2 separate regions of the Homo sapiens genome follow, and region 1 is linked to region 2. The links come from fine-mapping of genetic effects on gene expression. A gene starts in region 2. The other region holds a variant in brackets. All regions are shown on one strand. Distances are from middle to middle. Region 1 overlaps ARHGAP35 (Rho GTPase activating protein 35). Region 2 holds the start of ARHGAP35 (Rho GTPase activating protein 35).

Region 1 (8,328 bases), 100 kb after region 2:
CAAAAAAAAAAAAAAAAAGTGTATGGTTTAGTGTGTGCCAGATCCTTTTTAAATTATTTCTCTTTGAAGATTCCTTCCTAGTCTAACAAATTTGTAGAAAACTACTATGGGAGGAGGGCCTAGCTTAGCAGGAGTTTTCCTTAAATATTTTATGTGTGGATGACACTGCGAGGCTTTTTCCTCAGACATCTGGAACTGGCCATCGGAGAGCTGCTCCAGGCAGTTGCTCTCTGTTGCTCTACCTCGTTGATTGACCGCTTCCTGCACATTGGACCTGTATGTATGATCCTGCACACCAGATGGGATCTGAGGAAGGCTCAGTCAGGAGTCCCTGAACCAGTTCCCACTGTTTGAAACAATGGTTTTGCACCCTGGTAGTGAAGCATTTGCTTTTGAGAACTGCAATTGCATGCCTTCTCTGACATCTGTAACAACAGGCATTCTCTTTCATCACTTTCCCACGCCCTCATTTGACCTTTACAGCATTTGGCCGTTTTTACTCATATATTGGGGATTGAGGTCACAGATGTCTCCAGTTTTGTCAAATAGGTGATATTTCTGTTTCTCATTCTCCTGGTTGCTTTTGTGTGATTCTCCAGAGGAAAAAGGGTAAAATCTTTATTCTGCTGTTTTTAAACGAAGTACAGTTAAGTAAAATAAATTTAGCATTCTGGAAAATCTCCTTTTTTAAAAAAAAATTTATTTATTTATTTGAGACAAGGTTTTACTTCACTGCCCAGACTAGAGTGCAGTGGCACAATCTCACAGCTCACTGCAACCTTGACTTCCTGGGCTCGGGTGATTCTCCCAGGTAGGGGCTACAGGCATGCACCACCACACCTGGCTACTTTTTTGTATTTTTTGTAGGATGGGGTTTTGCCATGTTGCCAGGCTGGTCTCAAACTCCTGTGCTCAAGTGATTCGGCCTCCCAAAGTGCTGGGATTACAGGTGTGAGCCACCACACCTAGCCAAAAATCTCCTTTTTTTATTTATTTTTATTTTATTTTATTATTTTTATTTTTATTTTTTTGAGACAAGAGTTTCACTCTTGTCACCCAGGCTGGAGTGCAATGACAGGATCTCTGCTCACTTGCAACCTTGGCCTCCTGGGTTCAAGCAATTCTCCTCCTTCAGCCTCCCAAGTAGCTGGGATTACAGGCACCCGCTACTACGCCCAGCTGATTTTTGTATTTTTAGTAAAGACAGGGTTTCACCATGTTGGCCAGGCTGGTCTCAAACTCCTGACCTCGGGTGATCCACCCGCCTCAGCCTCCCAAAGTGCTGGGATTACAGGCGTGAGCCACTGCACCCACCCAAAAACCTCCTTTTTTAAATGGTCTTTATATTTTGTCTACTGATGATGACTTCCTCACTACCATTGTTTTAGAAACTGCTCCTTTTGTGCCATTTAAAGGTAACTCGAAGCCAGGTGCGAGTGTGGTGGCTCCAGCCTGTAATCCCAGCATGCTGGGAGGCAGAGGGGCTAGAGGATCGCTTGAGCCTAGGAGTTCGAGACCAGCCTGGGCAACATAGCAAGACCTTGCCTCTACAAAAAAAATTTTTTTTTTTTTTTTAGTTAGCCATGCATTGTGGCACATGTCTATAGTCCCAGCTACTCAGGAGGCTAAGGTGGGAGGATTGCTTGATCCCAGGAATTCAAGGTTAGAGTGAGCTATGATTGCACCACTGTACTCCAGCCTGGGCAACAGAGCAAGACCTGTCTCACAAAAAAAAAAAAAAAAAGAAAGAAAGAAAAAAGTAACCCGATCTTGTTGAGGAATGTGTGCTTATGCCCTTTTCCGCCTTCTCTCCATTAGCCCTGGCTGTTTCTGTCTGCCTGTAATTTTATTAGCATTTCAGTCAGATCTGTCATTAGGTACCCATCTTCTTGGGTATACGTATCACTCTGCTAAGAAACAAAAGGAATACATGTCTCCTCCATGACTAGGCAGTGGGTGCCACAGGAGCCAATGTAGACCAATATAGTCATTCAGGCAGGAAGCTTATGTATGAGACGGTAGGTGATAGACCCCTAGATTCCTGTGGCTTCCTCAGGTCTTTTGTATATGAAGAATTTCATAGGTTTTCATTCTTTGGTCTACATGCAGAGAAGAGAGTTTCTTATTAGAGAACAGATTGGAGAAAAAAATAGGGCTTTTACTGTTTATTCCACGTATTTCTGTATTGTGTGAAAAGTAATTTAGCAATGAACACGTATTTTGTTAAAAAAAATTGTAGAATCGTTAGAAGTAAAAAGTAAAGTCATTTTCTCATTCTCAAAGTTACCTGCTATTAAGAGTTTAAATTGTACCTTCCAGAGCTTTCTGTATATGTGTCTACACATAATAGATATAATGTGCTGGGCTGCTTTTTATACAGATGGAGCCATGCTGAATGTGCTGTTCTATGCTTTGCTTTTTCCCACCTAAAAATGTATTGCATACATTTTCCTATAATGATGGGCATAAATCAGCCTTTGAAAAACTTGACTGGAGAGTATTTCTTTGGCTTTTTTTTTTTTTTTTCAGAGACGAAGTCTCACTCCTGTCCCCTAGGCTGGAGTGCAGTGGCGCAATCTCGGCTCACTGCAACCTCCACCTCCCGAGTTCAAGCGATTCTCCTGCCCCAGCCTCCTGAGTAGCTGGGATTACCGGCGCCTGCCACCACGCCCAGCTAATTTTTGTATTTTTAGTAGAGATGGGGTTTCACCATGTTGGCCAGGCTGGTCTCGAACTCCTGACCTCAGGTGATCCGCCCGCCTCAGCCTCCCAAAGTGCTGGGATTACAGGCATGAGCTGCCGCGCCCAGCCAACTGTATAATAATTTGTTTAATCAGTCTCCTGTTAAAAGACATCATCTCAGTCTTTTGTTAATATAGATAATACTGCATTGGCTATCTATACATGTGTAGACACATGTATACACACACATACATGTGCATGCAAATACATCTATAGGATAGATACCTCAGAATGGAATAGGCAGATGGAAGGATAGGTACATTTTATATTTTAAACAATATTGCCAAAATGCTCTCCAGTATAGCACCTCCATCAGCTGTATATTAGGGTAGTGGTAAAATGGTAATATGTTAGAATTGCAGCTGCCTTACAGTCATCCAGTCCACCTCTCCACAACATGGGTGAATCTCATGGACGCGTTGAATAAAAGAAGCCAGAAATAAAAGAATGTATACTGTATATTTTATTTCTATAAAGTAGAAAACCAGAAAACCTACCCATGCTATTAGAAATCAGGATAGTGGCCAGGTGCGGTGGCTCATGCCTGTAATCCCAGAACTTTAGGAGGCCGAGGCAGGTGGATCACCTGAGGTCAGGAGTTCAAGACCAGCCTGGCTAATATGGTGAAACCCCATCTCTACTAAAAATACAAAAATTAGCCGGGCGTGGTGGCGCACACCTGTAGTCCCAACTACTCGGGAGGCTGAGGCAGGAGAATTGCTTGAATCGGGGAGGCAGAAGTTGCAGTGAGCCGAGATTGCGCCACTGCCCTCCAGCCTGTGTGACAGAGTGAGATCCTGCCTCAAAAAAGAGAGAGAGAAAGAAAGAAAAAGAGAGAAAGAGAAAGAGAGAAAGGAAGGAAGGAAGGGAAGGGAAGGAAAGGATTGGGATAGTGGATATCCTTGGGGAGGGAGTAGAGGCTGGTAGAGGGCACAAAAGGCTTCTGGAATGCTGGGATGTTTTGTGTCTTGATCTGTGGGTGCTGTTTACACAAGTGTGGTCATTGTGTGAAAATCCATCACCGTACACTTCTCTGTAAACTTCTGAATGTGTATTATCTTTCAATAAGAGTTTGTTTTTTAAAAAAGCCTCTAGTCCCAACTCTTCCATTTTAAAGATAAGAACCCAGGAGTTGAAGAGATTCCCCACTGTCTTGCCATATGAGCAGCTCAGGGTTTCTGAGAGCCTGTGCAAGAAGCCAGAGCCCTGGCCTGCCTTGCCAAGACTGGCTAGTGATGTTGTTGGCACTTGGAAAGGCCGTGAATGTGTGACAATGTCTCTCACCTTGAGGCCCCTGAAGAATAATGGAGAGTCTCAGAGCCAGCTCATGTGTCAAATGGAATTTCTGGTTTTATAGCTTATGCTCTTGTGTTTAGGGCAGAAATTCTAGCACAAGGCCTCACACCCAGGCAGTAGACAAGGGTGGGGAAGTTTCTGATGGAGAAAAGTTCGGTTCTCTGTTACTCTGGCCAACCTCTCATTCTTTTGTTTTTGTTTTTGAAATGGAGTCTCGCTTTGTCGCCCAGGCTGGAGTGCAGTGGTGCGATCTTGGCTCATTGCAACCTCCACCTCCCAGGTTCCAGTGATTCTCCTGCCTCCTGCCTCAGCCTCCCACGTAGATGGGATTACAGGCATGCACCACCACACCCAGCTAATTTTTGTATTTTTAGTAGAGATGAGGTTTTACCATGTTGGCCAGGCTGGTCTCGAACTCCTGACCTCAGGTGATCCGCCCGCACTTGGCCAAAGTGCTGGGATCGCAGGCATGAGCCACTGCGCCCGGCCTCAACCTCTCATTCTTAGTCCTTTTTCTCACTGCATCCTCATCCTTCCCGTTTTGCTGCTGCTTCCTACTCCTTTTCAGGCTAGCCTATTTCAGAAAATTTTATCTTTTTTAGTAAAATTATTTGCTCAGAATAAAAATAAAGCAGATTTCTGTTTCATTCTTCCTGGGCCTGCTTTGGGAGGGTGGTGAGTGGTGAACTCCAAGGAATTGTTTGCATGGTGTGCTACCCTGATGGGAGATTCTCAGCGTCCAGGATTCCTTTACTTTTCTGTGGGGGTTCTATCTGGAAACCTTATGTGACTCAGGGCATAGTATGATTTTGAGCACTTCCTGTGGTCAAAAACTGTTGTCTTTGATTGGAAATTATGCTGTGTTCTGAGTGCTTGCTGGCACGCACACACTGTTGACTGCTTGTTCTGGTAGCACATCTGCGTGGGGTGCCTTAAAAGTGGGCACTCTCTCAGCAGAAAATTCCCATGTGGGACCTCAGTTCAAGCCCCTCCTCACTTTCATCACTTTCTTCTCTTTTGCTTCCCTTCCTCTGTGCCTTCACTCCTCCACACTGGCCTCAGCAAATCCCATCTATTTTCCAAGCCCCATCTGAAAGCGTGCCTCTTCTCTGATGACCATCCTTGTTGGAGCTGACTTTGCCGTCCCTCCTGTGGACAT[C/G]CATGCCAGTTGTCTGTGTCATCTGTTTAGCAGTCATCTGGTCCTAACTTTTAGCTTATCTTTTATTATATCTAAGTGTGATCTAACTTTTCACCTTTATCTTGTCTCCCTGTCACCTCGAAAGAGGACACGACAGTGCTGTTAATTTTTCTATCTCCCATGGGACTTAATCGGTGTCCTCCACGTAGTATGCTTTAATAATGGTTTATTGCTGTGATACTGCTTCACAAATGCCAGCAGATGCCATGCTGTATCATCAGAGATGAGATTATTTTATTTATTTATTTTTAATTTTTTTATTTTTTGAGATGGAATCTTGCTCTGTCACCCAGGCTGGAGTGCAGTGGCGCAATCTCGGCTCACTGCAATGTCCGCCTCCCAGGTTCAAGCAATTCTCCTGCCTCAGCCTCCCGAGTAGCTGGGATTACAGGTGAGTGCTACTACCCCCAGCTAATTTTTATATTTTTAGTAGAGACGGGGTTTCACCATGTTGGCCAAGCTGGTCTTGAACTCCTGACCTCAGGTGATCCACCCGCCTCAGCCTCCTGAAGTGCTGGGATTACAGGCATGAGCCACCGGACTCATTATTATATGAGTCATTATTATATGCCCAGACAAGATTATTATAAATTTAAATTTAAATTTGTAATTTATTTTGTGAACCTGAGCAGGTGACTTTTTTTTTTCTTTTCTTTTCTTTTTGAGACAGGATCTTGCTCTATCACCCAGGCTGGAGCGCTGCAGTGGCGTGATCATGGCTCACTGCAGCCTTGACTGCTTGGGCTCAAGTGATCCTCCCGAGTAGCTGGGACCACAGGCATGCACCACCAAGCTTGGCAACTTTTTAAAATATGTTTCGTAGAGATGGGGTCTCACCATGTTGCCCAAGCTGGTCTTGAACTCCTGAGCTCAAGTGATCCTCCCACATCAGCCTCCTAAAGTGGTGGGATTACAGGTGTGAGCCAGCATGCGCAGCCAGTGGCATCATTCTTTAAGTCTACTTTTACTCCATAAGCCAATCTCCCATTGAAAAACTGACAAAAATAATTCTCAACTTTCAACTGGTTTCAGCTGACCCTCTGAATGTGGGATAATATTTGCTTGATAGGGCAGTTTCAGTTCAGCAGAAGGGCTGGTGTGGCTCATTGGAGCTTATGGAAGGGGGTTCTACCAGGGTAATAAGGTCAATATGTGAATCCTTTGATAAAAAAGAAATGGGCACAAGCCAACATGGACCCAGAGAGAGAATAAAAGTCTTAAAAACTTGCAGAAATGAACAGTCCTGGTAGGTCTTTGGTAGCCTGTCCAAATACAGAGCATGGATCTAAAGTGATTTCTTTCCCTTCATATGTTTATTCAGTTATCATAGTACTACCTTTTGATAGCCTTCCCCTATATTTTGTGACAATTACTTTATCAAATATTCAGTTCTTAAAATTGAGTCTTTTTAGGCCAGGCGCGGTGGCTCACGCCTGTAATCCCAGCGCTTTGGGAGGCCGAGGCGGGCGGATCACCTGAGGTCAGGAGTTTGAGACCAGCCTGGCCAACATGGTGAAACCCCGTCTCTACTAAAAATACAAAAATTAGCCGGGCGTGGTGACAGGTGCCTGTAATCCCAGCTACTCAGGAGGCTGAAGCAGGAGAATCGCTGGAACCCAGGAGGCAGAGGTTGCAGTGAGCCGAGATTGCGCCATTGCACTCCAGCCTGGAGGACAAGAGCGAGACTTCATCTCAAAAAAAAAGAGTCTTTTCTAAGATTTCTTTTGTTTTACTGATTTTACTTTCTTGTTTTTATACCAAAATCATGTTTCCTAAATTTTTACTCTCAAAAGTGCTTTAATAGCTGGTAAAATTCAACTTTTTCTCTGGGTCTTTTTCTTGGGTTTTTTGTTTGTTTGTTTGTTTGTTTGTTTGTTTGTTTTGAGACAGGGTCTCACTTTGTCACCTAGGCTGGTGTGCCGTGGCACAGTCATGGCTCATTGCAGCCTCGATCTCCCAGGCTCAAGTAATCCTCCCACCTCAGCCTCCCAAGTAGCTGGAACTTCAGGTGCACACCACCATGCTCAGCTAATTCTTGTATTTTTTGTAGAGATGGGGTTTCGCCATGTTGCCCAGGCTGATCTCCAACTCCTGCGCTCAAGTGACTCTCCTGCCTCAGCCTCCCAAAGTGCTGGGATTACAGGCGTGAACTGCTGCACTCGGCCTGGATTAATCTTTTTCAACTCCATGTTTCATTCCCATAATTGCTGTCTTTGCCAGAATATTCTTTAGCCTCACAATGTTTAGTTTTTACAATCCTAAAAGAATAATTGAACACCTGTTATGTGTCAGTTCCATTAGATGCTGGAGGCTAAAATATGAATAAGATAGTTCATATTGCCCCCTAGAAGGACTCTTAGTCTTCTCTGGTCAAAACCAAGTCAATAAAGGAAGTATTAGTTGGAAACCCTCAGTCTCCCCAGCCTCAATACCTAGCTTCACTTGTACATCCAGCAGCCCCTGGGGTCTACTTTGCAACCTTCCAGTTTGCCATATGTGATATTTTCTATTGGATCTTTTAAAGATATTTTTGGTATTTTTTTCTTTCTTTGCAAAATATTTATACGATTTTTGGTATTATTTTATTTAGTGCATTTTAACCATTCCATTGAGATTTTTATTTTATTTATATACAAAATGCAATTGAGGCCAGGCGCAGTGGCTCATGCCTGTAATCCCAACACTTTGGGAAGCTGAAGCAGGAGGATTGCTTGAACCCAGGAATTCAAGACCAGCCCCAGCAACATATCGAGACTCTGTCTCTACAAAAAATTAGAAAATTAATCAGGTGTGCTGGTGCATACCTGTAGTCCTGGCTGATTGGGAGACTGAGGCAGGAGAATCACTTGAGCGTGGGAGGTTGAAGCCATGGTGAGCCATGGTTGCACCACTGTACTCCAGCCTGAGTAACAAAGCAAGACCCTGTCCCCCACCCCCAAAAAATGCAATTGAACATCTTTGTAATGTATGGTCCTTCATTTCAAAGTCATGACACCTCTCTGCTTTTTTTCCTCTTCTCTTTTTTCTTGTGTAGTCATTACAGTTGTTTGTCTTACTTTCTAGGGTTGATGGGATGGAGTGAGTGTAATAAG
Region 2 (8,328 bases):
TAAAAAATAGATGTTTATTATGCATTCATCCAGTAGATATTTAGTGCGTCGATCTACTAAGCAAGGGGCCCAGGCACTGGGATTCCGCGGTGAATCTGAGCATCCCCGCCTCCCGTTCCTGCCTCGTGATTGGCTGCCCTTGGGCCAATGGCTGAAGAGTCCACCGCTCTGCCAGCCCCCGCGGCAATCCTCCAGCTGCAGCTTCCCCTGTTCGGTTTGCAGGCGGCGCTGTGGGCTCACTGACTCCTCCGTCACACGCAGACCTGGTCCCCACCCTCTCTGATTCTTTCAGACTCTTAGGAATGAATAGAGTGTATACCCCAGAGTCCCACCCTCTTTACAAAATCCTTTTGTGAATTTTTCTGCCTGTGCAGGTTTCCAATACAGGTCCAGAATCCCACGCCCGCCTCTTATCAACCAACACCAGCGGCTCTCCCGTTAATGTGACCTCCAGCCATTCGGCCCGTAGGCCGATGCTTGGGAAATCTTGACAGCGGCCCAAGCCGGCAGTCGGCACTTCTCTCGGTCGGTTAATTGTTTACTCGTTTGTTTATTTATCCTGGAGTGGAGGCTAGCCGGGTGCGCGGAGGCGGCTGCCCCCAGGGAAGCCCGCTTCCTGTGGTTGGCTTGCTCAACTACTATCCGCCCTCTTGCGCACTGGAAAAAATTGCAGAGCTGGGAATGCACCCCTTGATGGTTCCGTTCATGCAGTAAAACAATGCCTGGGCCCCTGCCTTGTGCCTGGATCCGTGCTAGGGACATCGACGATGACTGAAACAGCCCTGGCCCTGCCCTCAGGGGCCTTGCAGTCCGATGGGAAAGACCTATCACCAGATATGGACCACCCAAGGTGGCCAGGGCTTGGACGGGAGACCTAAAGGGACTGTGGGAGCTTGGAAGGAGCAGCTGACCCAGCCTGTTGCATCAGAGAAGGCCTCCTGGAAGAGGGGACATCTGAGCTAGCATCTCAAAGAAGGCTAGAAGGACAACCATGTAGTCTCTGGCTACCATGTCCCCAGTGCCTACCACCCCCTTGTTTAGCATTGGATTTTTTTTTTTTTTTTTTTTTTTTTTTTTGAGACGGAGTCTCCTTCTGTCACCCAGGCTGGAGTGCAGTGGTGCGATTTTGGCTCACTGCAATCTCCATCTCCCGGGTTCAAGCGATTCTCCTGCTTCAGCCTCCCTAGTAGCTGGGATTATAGGCGTGCACCACTATGCCTGGCTGATTTTTGTACGTTTTGTAGAGACAGGGTTTCGCCACGTTGTCCAGGCTGGTTTCGAACTCCTGGCCTCAAGCAATCCACCCGCCTCAGCCTTCCAAAGTGCTGGGATTACAGGCCTGAGCTACTGTGCCTGGCCGACTCATTCACTTTTATTTATTAACAAGTTTTAATTGTGGGTCATTGGCCAGACTTTGGAACTAGCCAGGGTCCCCTGCCTTCAGAGGGCTCACACATAAAATGGTGATACCAACACAGAACTTCATTTAATCTTTTTAGAGACAGGGTCTGGCCTTGTGGCCCAGGCTGGAGTGCAGTGGCACAATCATAGCTCACTGAAGCCTTGAACTCCTGGGCTTAAGTGATCTTTCTTCCTCAGTCTCCTAAAGTGCTGGGATCCAACACAGAACTGCAAACCTTGAACCCTGAAGAAATGCTACGTGTAGCAACGTGACCCAATTGTCTGGGTTTGTGTCTCAAACCTGCTGCTTACTAGCTGTGTAACTTTTCTGTACCTTATAACTTACTCATAAGGTTGTTGTGAGGATTCAGTGAGTTAATGGGTCTAAAGTGCTTTTAGACTGCTGCCTGGCATGTCCAGGCATGGCGGCTCATGCCTGTAAACTCAGCGTTTTGGGAGGCTGAGGCAGGAGGCCTGCTTGAGGCCAGGAGTTTGAGACCACCCTGGGCAACATAGCAAGACTCCATCTCTACCAAAAGAAAAAAAAAATTGGCCAAGTGTCATGGTGAGAGCATGTAGTTCCAGCTGCTCAGGAGGATTGCTTGAGCCCAGGAAGTTGAGGCTGCAGTGAGCCATGACTGGTCCACTGCACTCCAGCCTGGGCAACAGAGCAAGACCCTGTCTCAAAAAAAAAAAAAAAATCCACACACAAAAAAAAACAAATAAAAAGAATGTTGACTAGCCTGGCCAACATAGTGAAACCCCGTCTCTATTAAAAATACAAAAATTTGCCAGGTGTGGTGGCACACACCTGTAGTCCCAGCTACTCGGGAGGCTGAGGCAGAAAAATCGCTTGAACCTGGGAGGTGGAGGTTGCAGTGAGCCGAGACCTCGCCATTGCACTCCAACTTGGATGCCAGAGTGAGACTCCATCTCAAAAAACAAACAAACAAACAAACAAAAAAGACTGTTGCGGCCAGGCTCAGTGGCTCACACCTGTAATCCCAGCACTTTGGGAGGCTGAGGTGGGTGGATGGCTTGAGGCCAGGACTTCGGGACCAGCCTGGCCCGAACAGGTGAAACCCTGTCCCTACTAAAAATACAAAAATTAGCCAGATGTGGCGCCTGTAGTCCCAGCTACTCAGGAGGCTGAGGCAGAAGAATCACTTGAACCCGGGAGGTGGAGGTTGCAGTGAGCCGAGATCACACCACTGCACTCCAGCCTGGGTGACAGAACAAGACTCTGTCTTGAGAAAACAACAAAAACAAAAATTAGCGGGGCGCACGCTGGTAATCCCAGACTCTGCCTCAAAATAAAAAATAAAAATAAAAAAAGACTGTTGCTTGGCACGAAGTACTCATTTTTATTATTAAAGAACGAGGGATCAGGCCAAATCTGGGAGACTACCCTGAGAAGGTGACTTCAAGCTGAGAGTTGAAGGGTAAATCAGAGCTGATGGGCTCCCAAGGGGTTTGGGGGATCCAGAGTGAGCCCAAGCGTCCTTGTTCTCCAGATGCTGCCAGCTCACAAATTTAAGATTGAAAAGACTCGGAACACTGCATAGGCGTTGTAAAGACATTAATTTGAAATACAGGTATCAGGAATTCACTGCCCCCCACCTTGTCTTTCCTGTGTCTCCTCAAGTAATCTCAAAAGTCCCTTACACATCACGGTTTGTAATGACAGTCCACGCACTCGATTTGGCAGCCCCGCAGTGCTTAAAGAAAAGTTGTTGTTGTTTCAAGCCACTAACATCTAAAAATCAGACTGAATGCATTAAAAGTGCCTTTTTTTTTTTTTTTTTGAGACGGAGTTTCCCTCTGCTGCCCAGGCTGGAGTCCAGTGCTATCTCTGCTCACTGCAACCTCCGCTTCCCGAGTTCAAGCGATTCTCCTGCCTCAGCCTCCCGAGTAGCTGGGATTACAGGCGCCCGTCACGACGCCCACCTCATTTTTGTATTTTTAGTAGAGACGGGGTTTCATGTTGGCCAGGCTGGTCTCGAACTCCTGACCGCAAGTGATCCGCCCGCCTCGGCCTCCCAAAGTGCTGGGATTACAGGCATGAGCCACCGCGCCTGGCCCTAAAAGTGCTACATTAAAAAAAAAAAAAAAGTCAATGGAAACATCCTTTAATATAAAAATCTTTATTAATGGAATAAACAAGCCCCTGTAATTTTATTTATCAACGCTTACAGAGCGCTTACTATGTATGCAATGCATGATTTCAAGAGCTTTGCAAAATATAATCTATTTAATTTTCACAGCAGCCCTACGAGAGAGGTACGATTATTATCCCATTTTATAGATGAAGAGACTGATGGCAGAAATGCCAAATGTAATAGGAAACAGCCTTTCTTCATGCATTCCACAAATATTGGCTCGGCGCCCGGGAAGCTCATCTTCCACGATCTGTACTTCCGGAGGAGTCCCAGAGGAACACCTCCTCAGTTCAGAGGAGTCAAGGGTTACAGCGGTGCCCTCTCCCATCACTACTCTTTTCCCTTCAGGCGCCCTAATTGACATTCGATTTGTAGCCATTTGCACAATGCTAAGTGACAGGCTTGGGCTGCACACAGGACCAGGCCGTCTTCCCTCTCCTGGGGATCAGTCGTTCACAGAACCAAAAACAAGTTGCATGGACGCGCGCGTTGGCTGCAGATTTTCTTCACAGCCAGGAGAAAGAGCACGCGCTCTCCAGCCCCGCCTCTTCTTCCGGGACGACGAATTGCGGGGCTCGGATTGGGCTGAGGCGGGCCACGCCTCCTCATATCCTCCAATCAACTCCCTCTCTGGTGCGCTCCCTCCTTCTCAGCCCCGCCCCACCGCCCCACGTTACGTCGCTCCTTCTGGCCTCCTCCGTTATCCCGGCGGCTGCGGCTCGCGCGGCAAACCCACCTCCCATTGCTTCCCATTGGCTGGTCAGGTCCCGCGCGAGCGGGATCGCGCCCTTCGCCCCCCACCCCCAAAACCGGGCCATGCCTCTCTCCTTCGGCTTTCTCCAGGAGCCAGCGCGAGGCAGTAGATCGGCTGCTTGAGACGCGCGCGCAGCTCCTGCGGACCACTCCCTCCGCCCTGCGCCAGCAGCTGCGCCGGCTGGCAGCCCCCCGCGCACGCGCGCTCGCCCATCCCGCTCCCTCTGCTCGTTTGCAAGTCGCCTCGCGCTCAGTCGCGACGGCGGCCGCCGCAATAGCGGCATTTTCGGGGGCGCACGCGCACTGCACCGTCCGCGGCCGTTCCTAACCTCAGGCAGCGGCTGTGGCAGTAAGCCCCTCGGGTGCGCACGCGCTCTGACCTCTTCCCACTGCCTCGCTGGTTGTCCCTTCGCGGCGCGCGCCCAGGGGCCGTTATACCCCTGCAACGGTCCACGCGCCGCGCACGCGCAGTAGCGAGGGGGCGCGCGCGCGGGAGCGGCCGTCGCAGGAAGGAGGTGCCGCCGCTGCCGCCATTGCGAGGGAGGGAGGGAGGGAGGGAGTGAGCGAGGCTGGTCCGCCCTCCCCCTGGTTGCCGCCCCTCCCCCCTTCCCCTCCCCGCCCCCCGCCCCGAGGGAGAGCCGCGGCGCGGCGGCAGGAGGAGGTGGAGGAGGCGGAGGAGGGAACCCGCGAGGGAGGGTCCGCCCGGCCCCCCGCCGCCGGAGCCGCCGCCGCCGCCTCAGCCGCCGCTGGACTAGGAGCAGGGGAACATGGCGCCGGGGCCCCCGTCGTTGCTGCCGGGATTTTGGAGGCCGGGGCCGCGCTGAGGGCGCCCAGCTGGTGAGTGCGCGAGCTCACGGGCCCCGGGCGGCGAGGCCGGGCGCCGCCCCGCTGCGGGGTCCAGGGGGAGGCGGGGACGGCGGGGCCCGGAGCCCGCGAACAATGGAGGAGCTGGAGGGGGAGGGGAGGAGCGGCCCCCCCCCCAGCCCCCCGGGCCCCGCCGTCCCCGTCGCTTCGCGCGTCGGCCCGGCCCGTGGGGCCCTCCTGCCCTTTGGACCTGCCCCTGCCCGCCCCAGCCCTGCTGTCCCCGCCGCCGCCCCCATCCCCGACCCGTTGGGATCTCGGTGTCTGCCTCGGAGCCTACCCGACTTCAGCCAACCGGTTCCCAATTCTGCGCCCCCCTTCCCCCTTCCACCCCTCCATAATGCCCTTCGCTCCTCCCGGGCTCTGCAGTGCTCCTGGGACCCATCTTCTCCTCATTGACCATTCTGCATCTCTTAATTGTGGCTCCCACTTTTGAGATCCGTGACGCTTCTCCCTCTTCTCGATTCTGCTCTCACCACCCTTCAGATCTGTCCTCGGCCCCTTCTTTGACCTACCTTCTGTGCTATTATTCCTGTCTCAGAATCTGTTGCACCCTGGGAGCTGTCCCTTTAGGACCTGCGGTTCCAACCCTTTGGAGATCCATCTGAGACCCCTGTTCGGCCAGGCACTGCTGCCCCAGGTCTTCCCCTTGGACTGAATCCCGTTCCCTCGTGGGCCCTACTACCCGCATTTCTTGTCTGCCCTCTCGCAGAGCCTGCTGCACCCCGGGATGCCCCTCGGCTGGCTTTCTGACCCTTCCGTGCCCCAGCTCATTCCCCTGATCCCCTCGGACTTGGCTGCACCGTGCTTGCCTGTTCCCCTTCTCAGCTCTTGTTCCCGTTTACCATTCAGACCCTTTCCTCTCTTCCAGACCTTTCTGCCTCTCAGCTCTGCCCCTTGCCCGACCTCAGATCTTGCTGCGCTCCCCTCACCTGCTTGCTTCTGACTCTGCCTTCCCGGGAAGCAGCCTCCTCCCCCTTCTCTGACTCTGCAGGTCTCCCATTTCTGCTATTCACTTAAATGATGTATCCCTAACTCAGACTGCCTTCAGTTTCAGCCCGTGTTCTCTTGGAGGTTTCCTCTCTTCCCCACCTCCTTTTTGGCACTCCTCTGAGCTACTGCATTCATTTGCTTCTCCTTTCTTTGGCCTGTCTCTCCTTCAGTTCTCTGCCTGAAAACTGCTTCCTGTCCCCTCTTTGCTCCAATTCCTCTCCTCCCCGTTTTAGCCCTTAGACATGCCCTTTAACCTCACTATACCTCTGATACCTCCCGGGCTGGTCACCCATCCCCTTCCTGTTCTGCATCTCACAGACCTGCCCCTAGATCCATTTTGTACCTACACTTTCTTCTCGTTTTTTTCAATTCTGCTCCATCCTCTTTATTTAGTGTTTCCCTCCCCAGCTCGGCTCCTTCGGAGCTGTCCACTTGCCCGCATATTTTTAGACCGGTTTTTAACTTCTGTATTGCCGTCCTTTCTTGGAGCGGTCCTTTAACACTGGGGTTCTTGTCACTGTGTCCCCTCTCTGTTCCCTCCCGAGTCTTTTAAGTTTTCCACATGACAGTCTCTTCCCCCCACCATTTTGATTCAGCCCTCACCCTTCACTCTGCTTTATTTGCCCACCCTCCACTGTTCTGCCTCTTGTCTTCTTTTGGAGTTCTCACTCCAATTGTGACATTACGATGTCTTCTTAATCATTCTTTCCTATGTATTCCCCCCCACCTTCCTCTTGGAGCTGCCTCAGTGCTGTGATAGATTATCACTCCCCTTTGATATCCCTCTCCCAATTCTGTTCCTCTTGGACTTGTTTCCTTCCTCACCTTTTTTTTTTTTTTCCTTCCCCTTGTATCCTGCCAGGCTCCTTCTCTTCCCATTTAGTTCCTATCAGACCTGCTCCTCGCAGCTCACCACCCGTGGCCCACCCATTCCCCATTGAGCACTTCCCCTTTCAGGCATATCTTTCTTTCCATCCCTCTGCTGCAGAGGCAAAGGGGCTGGATTGGGCCTTAGGCTCTCCAGGCTCTGAGACTGCAGATTCTCTCTCTGCGCCCTAACCCTGAGGGTTCTCTCCCCAGGGATCCTGAGAGATCTGGGTAAATAGGTGGGGGTTGGTTGATTGTTACTACTCTCTGGAGTCTGGGAGTGTCTCCCCCATTTCCCCCACTTCCACTAGGTTAGTAGTGTGGGGGGAGGTAGATCTTTTTCCATTGCCCCATTTTCTTTCCTCTGCTGTTTGCTCTCTCCCTTCCTATCTCTGGGCTTTGCAGCTTTGTGTCCTTTGGAAAAGGGGATTGCAGCTGCTCGCAGATCTTTATTCTCTTTCTCACTTTCCCTCCTTCCTTCTCTGAGCCATTGCATAGAGTACCCTCTCTCCCCTTCCACCTCTAAGCCAGCAACCCTAGGAGTGTCCTTCCCTTCCCCCCCGCCTTCGCCCCTCCCCCCCAGCTAACAAGTTATTTCAATATATAGTTTTACCTCTAGCTGGGGAAATGCCAGTTCTCAAATTATCCCGATCCCACCAGGGGTTATGGCCACAGTTGGACCTAGGGAAGCTACAGTATTGCCTTCCCTAATGGCCTCTGGTTTGCAGTGTGACCTTGTGGGAGGGGATGGGGAAGGTGGGCTTATTTCTTTTTCATCTTTGCCCCGGGAAAGGCTCCAGCTTCCTGGTCTTCAAAATGGTGAGGGCTTGGGTTTGGAAAGCACTTTGCGGTTGTTTGTTGAAAGAGAGAGTGCCAAATGTCACTCAGATTTCTGCCCTCTGGTATTGCAGGCACTCCCTGCCACAGGAGCTGAGTGCCTCTGGGCAGATCCATGCTAGATTCTGGGGCTCTTTGCCTGCCGTACAAGGGGTGTGTGGGTGGGCCCTGACATTCCTTAAGCTTTTTGAGTGACCTGATTGGGTAGAGTTAGAAAGGGGTGCCAGGAACTGGCGGATGTGATTGGATTTTTAGTCTTATTATCTGAGAAATGCGTCTTGGCTACCATTCCTGAGCGATTTTCTTTAATGACTCTATGGTTGTGGGGGGGTATTTAGTTCATTCAGGGGTAGAGGTGGTTTTTACAGAAAATCTGTCCAACCATTTTCCTTCCTTAACTTGGGAAAGGGGATCTTTTGCATGTTCTAGGTTTATTTATTTTATTTCTTAAGTAAAT

The links. PIP is the estimated chance that this variant, and not a neighbour inherited with it, causes the effect.
Region 1: its variant is fine-mapped to the expression of ARHGAP35 in whole blood (TOPMed, PIP above 0.99).

What each region holds. Positions count from the first base shown.
Region 1 is chr19:46,958,384-46,966,711 of GRCh38, forward strand. The region is part of intron 3 of ARHGAP35 (Rho GTPase activating protein 35); the gene reads left to right. Among named protein-coding and RNA genes, the nearest start is that of NPAS1, 57 kb to the right of the region's middle. RefSeq lists an enhancer at 4,529-5,728. The variant C/G (reference allele first, on the strand shown) is at 5,198.
Region 2 is chr19:46,856,060-46,864,387 of GRCh38, forward strand. It overlaps ARHGAP35 (Rho GTPase activating protein 35), which reads left to right and starts at 4,938. Exons shown (of 7, transcript NM_004491.5): 1 at 4,938-5,150. It overlaps LOC124904791 (translation initiation factor IF-2-like), which reads right to left. Exons shown (of 4, transcript XM_047439803.1): 2 at 7,063-7,149; 3 at 4,998-5,261; 4 at 3,530-4,837. The coding sequence ends at 4,166. RefSeq lists enhancers at 1-222, 223-1,159 and a silencer at 4,707-5,246.